2 separate regions of the Homo sapiens genome follow, and region 2 is linked to region 1. The links come from fine-mapping of genetic effects on gene expression. A gene starts in region 1. The other region holds a variant in brackets. All regions are shown on one strand. Distances are from middle to middle. Region 1 holds the start of LINC00944 (long intergenic non-protein coding RNA 944). Region 2 overlaps LOC105370062 (a long non-coding RNA gene).

What was found. PIP is the estimated chance that this variant, and not a neighbour inherited with it, causes the effect.
Region 2: its variant is the best candidate, but not a certain one, in a credible set for the expression of LINC00944 in whole blood (INTERVAL, PIP 0.83).

The regions. Positions count from the first base shown.
Region 1 is chr12:126,770,144-126,775,527 of GRCh38, forward strand. LINC00944 (long intergenic non-protein coding RNA 944) reads right to left here and starts at 2,119. Exons shown (of 5, transcript NR_033878.1): 1 at 1,936-2,119. RefSeq lists enhancers at 1,693-2,892, 2,368-2,447.
Region 2 is chr12:127,169,105-127,174,488 of GRCh38, forward strand. The region is part of intron 1 of LOC105370062 (a long non-coding RNA gene); the gene reads right to left. Among named protein-coding and RNA genes, the nearest start is that of LINC02405, 110 kb to the left of the region's middle. The variant T/C (reference allele first, on the strand shown) is at 2,707.

The DNA of each region.
Region 1 (5,384 bases):
TACCTGAGACCAGCTAATTTACAAAAGAGAGAAGTTTAATTGGACTTACATTTCCACATGGCTGGGGAAGCCTCACAATCATGGCAGAAGGCAAGGAGGAGCAAGTCACGTCTTACGTGCATGGCAGCAGGCAAAGAGAAAGAGAGCTTCTTCAGGGAAACTCCTCTTTATAAAACGGTCAGATCTCATGACACTTACTCACTATCAGGAGAACAGCATGGGAAAAATTTCCCCCCATGATTCAATTATCTCCCACTGCATCTCTCCCACAACACATGGGAATTCAAGATGAGATTTGGGTGGGAACACAGCCAAACCATATCACCATATATTATTACTTCTGTTTGTAAATTACTTCTGTGAGTAACTCATTTGGACTCTCACTCACTGAGAGGGGAAATAGACTTAACATGATAAGGGAGGGTTTGTTAAAGAAAAATTTGTGGACATATTTTAAAGGCACCTACCTAACAAACAACCTCAGAACCTCAGTGGTTTGAAACAATAAGGTTTATTTCTCACTCATGCTATAGGTTCTTCAGTGATCAGTAGAGAGGTTCTGTTCATTATGATCAGATGCACAGGACAAATGAAAACCACTGTATTGAATACTATAGATCACTCTGGAAGAAGGAAAACAAGCTTTGGAGAGTCTTCAGCCAGCAGTTAAAGACCCCCATCTAAATACCACATTATTAGAATAAATAACAAAAACCACATAACCATCTCAGTATACCCAGAAAAAGCATTTAACAAAATCCAACACCTTTTCATATACATTTTTAAAAAACCACTCAATAAATTGGAAATAGAAGGTAAAGGACATCTACAAAAAACTCCACAGCTGTCATTATAGTTAATAGTAAAAGACTGAGTTATTTTCTCTTAAGATCAGGAATAAGACATGAATGTCTACTCTTATAACTTCTATTCAAAATTTTCCTGAAATTATCCAAGATAATTAGGCCAGAAAAATAAATAAATAGCATCCAGTTTGGAAATAAAGAAGTAAGTCTATTTATATTCAAACATGATATGACCTTGTGTATGGAACATCTTAAGAAATCCACTTAAAACCTATTAAAACTAATAATTAGTTGGACAAAGTTTCAAGATACAAGATCAATATACAAAAATAAATTGAAATTCTATATGCTAAAAGTAAGCAATCCAAAAATGATTTTAAGAAAATATGTAATTATATTTATAATAGCACTCAGAAATAATATGATATTTAGGAATAAATTCTTAAAAGGAAGTGCAAAACCTATGCATGTAGCACTAGAAAACATTGTTGAAAAGAATTAAAGAAGATTTAAATAAATGGAAAAAAATTCATGTTTGTGGATTGGAAGACAATATTGTTCAGATGGCAGTACTCCTCAAATTGATCTATAGATTCAATGTGGTCCCTATCAAAATTCTGGCTGGATTTGTTGTATAAATTGAGAAGCCTATCATAAAATTCATATTGAAACACAGGGGACTTAGAACATCCAAAACAGTTGAGAAAAATAACACATTTAGAGGACTCACACTTTCCAATGTCAGACATTACCCGGGCACAATAATTAAAGAGTGTGGTATTGGTATAAAAAAATGACACACAGACCAGTGGAATAGACTTGAGAGCCGTAAAACGTACCGTTACATTTATAGTCAATTGATATTCAACAAAAATTCCAGACAGTTGAATGAGGAAAAAAATAGGAAAAATAGTCTTTTCCACAACTGCTGCTGACAAGTATGTTTTGGATCCCTTCCTTACACCACACACAAAAATTAACTCCAAATGATCCACAGACCTCAATTAAAGAGTTAAAATTGTAATACTCTTAGATGAAAGTATAGGATTAAATTTTTGTTGCCTGGGTTAGGCAAAGCTGTCTTAGAGACAACACTAAAAGTACAAACAACAAAATATTTTGTTACTACCTGTCTTCCTGATGTGCGTCTAGTCTAGGCTGTTTTTCTTGTTATTGTTACTGAGACGAGAAGTCTTCTTCCGACCGAAGGTTCTTCTCAATCGAAGGGTTCGTGGTCTCACGGCTTCAAGGAATGAAGCCGTGGACGGCAGTGGCGAGTGTTACAGCTCGATTAGAGAGTGTGCTGCGGCAAGATTTATTAAAGCGAAAGTGAAAGGAAAGCTTCCACGTGGGGGAAGGGGACCTGGAAGGGTTGCTGTTTCTGGCTTGGGTATCTTATGCTTACATCCCCTTATGACCCCTGCCCTCTTCCTTTTTCTGTCCTATAGAATCAGCTTATTTTCTATCTGCTTGTGGGTTGGCGGGCCTAGTTGGTTAAAAACATCAGGCTGAAGCTAGAGCTTAAACTCCCTATATGACTGGTTCAAGTTTCAACCACTTAGCTTGCAGCTATGAGTCAGTTTGTCTTAGGGGAAAGTCCCCTTTGATTGGTTGAAGTTTCCATCCCTTAGCTTTCAGCTATGACTCATTTTGGCTTAGGGGAAAGTCCCCTTAGGGAAGTCCCTATTGACCCAGGAAGTCCAGCCAACTTAGCCACTTAGTCCCTCATTACAACTCTTCCCATTTAACTGAATGAACCACTCCTTTTTAAAAAAATCACCACTTTTTTTTTTTTTTTTTCTTAGAGACGGAGTCTCGTTCTGTTGCCCAGGTTGGAATGCAATGGCGCGACCTTGGCTCATTGCAGCCTCCGCCTCCCGGGTTCGTGCCATTCTTCTGCCTCAGCCTCCTGAGTAGCTGGGATTACAGGCGCTGGCTAATGTTTGTATTTTTAGTAGAGATGGGGTTTCACCATATTGATCAGGCTGATCTCAACCTCCTGACCTCGTGATCCACCCGCCTCGGCCTCCCAAAGTGCTGGGATTACAGGTGTGGGATTACACCGCACCTGACCTAAAAATCACCACATATTTTAAAGCACTATTTGTCTCAGGGCATTGTGGGATTTCAGTGATGAACTGGATTTAGCTTTTAGGTTGAACAGGAAACGTCAATAGAATTTTCGGTTTTCATGTCAGTGCAGATCTCGCAAAATAAAAATAAATGTGGCATTGGCTCTAAGGGCAGGGCCCATACACTAGTCCAGGCTATTCTGTAAATGATTAACACATCTCCAGGAGGAGATTGCCGCCCCAGAAACACCAATTCTGCTAAATACTGAAAGCAAATCTCACACTTGGGTTCTTGAGATCCCATAGAGTGTGGCTTTGCCATTCTAATCTCCTGGGGAGAGGGGAGATGTGGCAGGAAGAGACCACTGCACAGAAGACTCCTAGGCTGATAAGAATGTGTGAAGATGACCTGCAGATGAATATGCAAAGGAGAGTGCATGGAGACCACCAGCAGAGGACTAAATTAGAAGAAACAATCTGGAAGGGTGCAGGCACTGGTTTGGCTGCCATTAGTCTGAAATCCATACAGGAATTCAGAGGGGAGACACATGTTGCTAGAGAGACCAATTCAGGGCTAGAGAGAGGCAGAAGTGAATCTTCAAAGACAAGAGCTAAATTTTCAGCTGTAAGGAAGGAAAGAGATATTATACCAAGGTGCCTTGATTCTGATGGTCATGGTAAGTCATTCATTCATTCATTCATTCATTCATTCATTCATTCATCTGTTCGTTCATGCAGATTGTGGTGGTGGCACACAGGAGTTTAGTTTCAGACATATTAATTTAAAGATGCATAGTAGATATCTAACTGGAGACAGGTATTGGTAGTTGGATGGAGGAATCTTGAAGTAGGAAGAAATATTCAGGCTGAAGATATGAACTCTGTGATTTTTATTCTTATGTTTTTAAACTATTAATATATACCTTTTTCTGAAATCAATGAATTTCCCCAAGCAACTCCAGACAGATGTCTGGGGCCTCATTTATTTATTGGTTTCATAAATCTGAGCCCTCTTTGATTTAGCGTTATACAGCCAGCCCATCCCGGGCCTGATCTTTGCCATCCTAATCATGAACTAAGCCCCTGCCATGTAATTGTGTGTCTACTCCTCTGCCTCCGGGGATTGTAAGTACAGTGTTCTTCTTTATGCATCAAGATGTTATTGCTGAGATGTGAATCATGCAATTGCCAGGAGGGTCTCTGATCCCAGCTGCAACTTCTCCATTGAAGACTAGCACGCCCTACAGGGGGTTCAGAATAAAGGGAACCTCTTGACCACCCCTGAGAGCCCAGCCAACCAGCAACCCCAATGCATGAATATATGGCCATGACCTCAGTAGTGATTGCTCTCTCTTGGATAGGCCAATCTGTCTTCTAGAAAGTTAAAATTCTTCAGTTAAAAAGGCTCATGTGGTGCAAACTTGTAAAGACAAGAGGGGGGAATGTTTCACATTCTAATGATCTGTTTTTGAAAGTAATTTGAGGGTCCTTATATAACTCTGCTTTTTTTATGTTCCCACTGGATGTGCAACTATGTCATGCACGAGGCTGGGGACACCGAATGAATGAATGGAAAGTCAGTGAATAAATGACTGGGTTCTACGTAGACTCTGCCCCACCTGGGATCCAGTGTCTCACTGAGCAGCTGGTGAAACCTGATGCCTCCACTTCATACCTCTGTGACCTCCCTACTCCCCAGTTGCCTCTTCTAGCAGTAGACATGATAGACTTTCACTTGCTGGCCTCATTAATTCCAAAGATGACCTTGTGACTATGTCTGGCCAATGGTTTGCTAGCAAAAGCCAACCATCCCTCTTCTGGACTTGAGCATTTAAATCCCAGTGTCAAAACTTCCAGAGCTCTTCTTTCCCTTCAAGTCCAAAACCAAATAATCTAAATTTAGAATGGCATGTATAGTATGTATTACTTATGTAAAAATGGTGCAAAAAAGGGTGCATAACCATGTAATTGCTTGTAGATATATAGGATATTCTAAGGAAAATCAATAATAAACAGTAACATCTCGATCAAAATATCCCAACGCCAGTCCCAGATAAACGCATAAACATTTACCTCTAGAGCCCCAAATAATAGTTTCCCAGATGTGACTGCCTGCTCACTGTGTATATTGACAGAGGTTGTTGAAGTATTTCTTTTTTTTTTTTTTTCCGAGATGGAGTCTTGCTTTTCTGCCCAGGCTGGAGTGCAGTGGTGCGATCTCGGCTCACTGCAACCTCCGCCTCCCAGGCTCAAGTAATTATCCTGCCCCAGCCTCCCAAGTAGCTGGGATTTCAGGCATGTTCCACCATGCCCAGCTAATTATTTTTGTATTTTTAGTAGAGATGGGGTTTCACCATATTGGCCAATCTAGTCTTGAACTCCTGACCTTGTGATCCGCCTGCCTCGGCATCCCAAAGTTCCTGGCTGCAGTATTTCTTAAGTCAACCAGAATGAGCTCATCTTTTTTATGGAGAGACTTAAATAGAAATAACCAGCATTTATGATG
Region 2 (5,384 bases), 400 kb after region 1:
GGTAGTAAGAAATATGGTCTGGATAGTGCTATATTTCCTGACAACTTCAGTAAAAAGCAACCATCTGAAGTTCTTTGTTTTAATAGTTGTGTTCCATCTTTTTTTTGGTACCATCTCAGGAGATGGAAGTTGAAGTTGATATACCCCTTCAGATGTCAAGATCTTTTTAACCAAACAATGTTTTTCTAACACTTTCACGCCTTCCTCATCCTACATTCAGTTGGTGAGTAGTGGGAGCAGGAGAGAGGAAAGCACATGAGATGATAATGCTTCTTCAATTTCCATGGGCGTTTCCTGCTCCGAGAACAAGGGCATATCTGCATGAGAAGGTCAGAGTAACTCAGCCTCCACCCACACCTGCACAAACACGTGCACACTATTCCACAGAGAGCCAAACATCAGTCAATGAGGATGTTTAAAGCGCTGAATCTCCCCAGCACTTTGGGAGGCCGAGGCGGGCGGATCACATGAGGTGGTGAGTTCAAGACCAGCCTGACCAACATGGAGAAACCCCGTCTGTACTAAAAATGCAAAATTAGCAGGGTGTGATGGCGCATGCCTGTAATCCCAGCTACTTGGGAAGCTGAGGCAGGAGAATTGCTTGAACCGGGGAGGCGGATGTTGCGGTGAGCTGAGATTGTGCCATTACACTGCAGTCTGGGCAACAAGAGCGAAACTCCATCTCAAAAAAAAAAAAGCTGACACTAGTGAAATTCCTGTGGGCAGGCATGGATCTTAAGTTGTCTTCCATTGAATTCCATTTAGGAATGTGGAGCTGTAGACACGTGAACACAGAGAGAAATCTCCAGATGAATAATACATGCACCTAAGCCCCTGCATAAATACACAAGAATGGCAGTTACTTAAATTTCTGATATATTGAGGAAATAAAAAGTTAATACCAATTTGCATTACCAGAGACTTGGCTATTGCTAGTTCTGGAAAAAAAAAAGATAAAAAGAGTGGAGTGATGAGATGATAAATTGCACTTTCAACCACTGCAAAGCATTGAATGCGGCTTGTCCTGGCTGCTCTACAGTTACATATTCACCTAGCAAATATGTATCCAGAATTTGCAAAGTACACTGTTAGCCCCATGCTTTAGATGAGTTGGATGCATTTGCATCAGATCAATAGGTTAATGAGGGAATCTCTGACTTTGCACCATGGTGCCCGTAATGAATGTCTGCCTTGTTTCCTGCAGCCAAGCCCCATCCTCTGGTCCTCCAACCATCTTTGAGCAGGGGCTCCTTGCCTGCCCTTTCAGCTTCCCGAGGTCTAGGCTTCTTCTCAGACCCTCATTCTCTCCTCCCAGGTCTGAACCTCAGTCTGAACATCAAGGCTCTGATGCCACACAGGGACCATATAGACACCCACTGGCTGGCACTGCCCCTCAACTCCTCCTGCGGGGACTCCCTTGGTTCCTGTCCTGTCCCCAGGGGTCTGGTCTCTGGGTCCTTTCTGCCCAAATGCAGCTCCCCCCACCACCAGCCAGGGCAAGCGGAAAAGAAGAGATTAGGCAACTCTATTTTGTTTTCCAATCTGTGGTGAGCAGTCAGTTGTTGCTACTTCATTCTTAGCATATGTCTTAGTTGGAATTCTTCCCAAAGCAGACACTGATACAGGGACTTAGGTTGAGGTGAAAGTGGACCCAAGAAATCACAAGTGAGAGAATGGGGGAAGTGAGATGGGGGAAAGAGGAAGTCAACAGGTATGTGTCAAAGGGTGTCTGCTCCTATGTCGCTGGGGCCCACATTCCACTGGGAACCTTCTAAGGAATGATGCATGATGTGCCTCAGAAAAGATGCTCTGTGGGACAGAGACACTGGGCTGTCTGTCCAGGACTCGTCCCTCCCTTTGGCTGAGAGTTGCTTTTGGCAGCATTTCCAAGCTATCTTGCACCAGGCTGAGCATCTTCTGCAAGGCTGGAGAAAGCTCCCAGGCAAAGATGTACAAGGATCCAGGAAGCTTCCAGAGTGCAAAGAAACTGCCCTCCATGGCTCTGGATGGAATCGAAACTCCACAGCTCTGGATGGATTTGAAAGTGGGCTCAGCAGCTGTGGGGCAGGGCACTACCGATAACTGTGACAGCACAAGTTCCCGTCTCACACCTGCTGTTGCCTCTGCCAGAAATGTTCTTCCCTCACATCTGAAAGAGCCTCCCCTTTAACTGCAGGCATCTGCTCAAATGTCCCCTCCCAGTGGCATCTTCTCTAACCATCCTGTTGAAAATAATATGCCTTAAACCCCAGAAAAACATCCCATCATTTCTACTCATCTTGTAAATGATACACATGTGATAGATGTGTGTGTGTGTGTGTGTGTGTGTGTGTGTGTGTGTGTGATCTCTCCCTCTCCAGCAATGTTAGTTCCGAGAGGGCAGGGACCAAACACACAAAGCCTCCTCTACTTGTAGGGTTTCTATTCTGAGGACTGGAGAAAGGGAGAACAGAAATAAAGGAGAAGATAATCATGTGGCTTGTTATAAAGAGATGCGTACTGTGGAGCAAAGGAAAGAGTAGAATAAGGCGACTGAGAATGCATGCAGGCTGGGCAGGGCTGTGGCTTCAATTTTAAACCATGCTGTGAGGGTAAACCATGGGACATGTGACTTTTTTTTTTTTTTTTGATGGAGTTTCACTCTTGTCACCCAGAGTGGAGTGAGTGCAGTGTTGCGATCTCAGCTCACTGAACCTCCGCCTCCCA[T/C]GTTCAAGCGATTCTCCTGCCTCAGCCTCCTGAGTAGCTGGGATTACAGGTGCCCACCACCATGCCTGGCTAATGTTTGTATTTTTAGTAGAGACGGGGTTTCACTATGTTGGCCAGGCTAGTCTCGGACACCTGACCTCAGGTGATCCACCCACCTTGGCCTCCCAAAGAGCTGGGATCACAGGCGTGAGTCACGGCGCCCAGCCAGATATGACTTTTGAGCAATGACTTGTTGAGCTAGACCATGTGCCTGGCAGAGGGAATGGACACTGCCCAGGCCCTGAGTGGGGAGCAGGCCCAGTGTGTTCCCAGAAAGGCCAGGCCGGGAAGTCAGTGTGGGCAGAACACAGTCAGGAAGAGAGTAGGAGGAGAGATGCTCAAAAAGGCCTGGGAGGAGATCATGTGTAGCTTTGAAATATATTAAAAGAGATACGGAGCCGAGATCCCGCCACTGCACTCCAGCCTTGGCGACAGAGCAAGACTCCGTCTCAAAAAAAAAAAAAAAAGAGAGAGAGAGAGAGAGGTACAGTCTCTTGGGATCTACCAGAGCTTGCTTCCAGGAACTCCAGCAGATACTGACATCTGGGGATGCTCACATCCACTCTCCAAATTTACAATCTTTGCATCCAGCAAATACCGTTTTTGAATTTGAGATGCAAAACCTGTGGGTACGGAGGGCTCACTGTAAAATGACACTGAGCTTTACTCTGAGTGTAATGGGATGGCACTGCCTCATGTTCTCTCTAGGAGGGGCCCCCTGGCTGCTGCCACACCCTTGAGTGTGCATGGGGGGATGGGGGATGATATGTTAACTACATTTGTCAACTTGACTGGGCTCAGGGGTGCCCAGATAGCTGGTAAACATTATTTCTGGGTGTGTCTGGAGGATGTTTCTGGAAGACATTAGCATTTGAGTTGGTGGGCTGAGTTAAGAGGATTTACCCTCACCAATGTGGGTGAACATCATCTAATTTTTTGAAAGCCTAAAAAAAACCAAAATAGCAGAGGAAGAGTGAGTTCTCTTCTCTCTCTTTTTGAGCTGGGATATCCATCTTCTCCTGCGCTGGGATGTCAGAGTTCCTGGTTTTTGGGCCTTCAGACTTCTGGACTCTGGAATACAACAGAGCTCTCCTGGTTCCCAGACTTTCAGACTCAGACTAAATCAAAGCATCTGCTTTCTTCATTCTTCAGCTCACAGATCATGGGACTTCTCAGCCTCCATAATACTGTGAGCTAATCCCCATAATAAATCTCCTTTGATGCATCTAGGCCTGTCCTATCTGTGCTGCTTCTCTGGAGTACCCTGACTCATCAAGGGGTCAAGGGTTGAAGCAGGGAGACCATCATGGGTGCACTGCAGAATCCAGGGGAAAGGCCATGGTGGATGAGAACCGGGAGTAGCAGGGCGGCGGTGAGAAGTGGTCAGAATCTGTGTATATTTGGAGGAGGTGGCAAGAGGATTTCCTGACAGATTGGATAGACAGATTGGATAGAAATGAATGGGGCAAAAGTGAGTTAGAGGCTTTGACCTGGAAGGACAGAGATGCCATCAACTGAGATGAACTGGCTGCCAGGGACCCCAGATGTGACTGTGGTTAGAGTGGGGAGGGGCCAGTGCTTATAACTCTGTTTCTGCAGGGATCCCCAGTTCTACTCTGGCACCCCAGTGGTCCACGGCTGAGGAACATCATAAGAAAACACCTTTGGCATGACCATTAGTGCGTAAGTGGCTGACATCTTCAGTAGGGTTCGTGCTGGGGCTCCTCCAAGCAATCTCTCCAGGAACAGACTTTGCAGGACCTGAGATGGTAGTATGGAGGTTGTTAAGGGTCGCAGATGTTCAGGTTTCATTCTGCAGCTGTGTGCCACCAAAACCAATGGGTTACCCAGCAGGCAGGTCACCAGGCAGCCTCTGCTCACCTTCCAAAGCCCAGTAACGTCATGTGATATCAAAGCAATAAGTTAATAATTGTATCTTAATTTGTATACTTTAAATAGGCTTTAAATCTTCCCTTACATATAATAAGATATTAAAATCATCAAAGATAGATTGCAAATTAGTCCACACATCTCTATGTCCACTGCCAGCTTCCTATTCCTCACTGAATTAGTCCATTCTCATATTGCTATAAAGAACTACCTGAGACTGGGTAATTTATAAATAAAAGGGGTTTAATTGACTCACAGTTCTGCAGGCTGTACAGAAAGCATGACTGCGGAGACCTCAGGAAACTTACAATCATGGTGGAAGGTGAAGGGGAAGCAGGCACATCTTACATGGTCAGAGAAGGAGGAAGAGAGTGAAGGGGGATGGGCTACATACTTTTAAACAACCAGATCTGAGAACTTACTCATTATCATGAGAACAGCAAGAAGGAAATCCACCCTCATGACCCAATCACCTCCCACCAGGCCCCTCCTCCAACACTGGGGATTGCAACTTAACATAAGATTTGGGCAGGGACACAGATCCAAACCATATCACATACTGTGATCTACCCTTTCCTGGATGTTTATCACAATTTCCTAGTATGTCTCTATGATGTTCTTTCTGCCCTAGGCCAGAAAGATCCTTTTAAATATTAAATTGTGTCATGACACTCTGTCTCTTCAGAGCTTTCAGTTCCATCTCATTACACTTAGAATTTAAATCTCTCTCTCTCTCTCTCGTCTCTCAA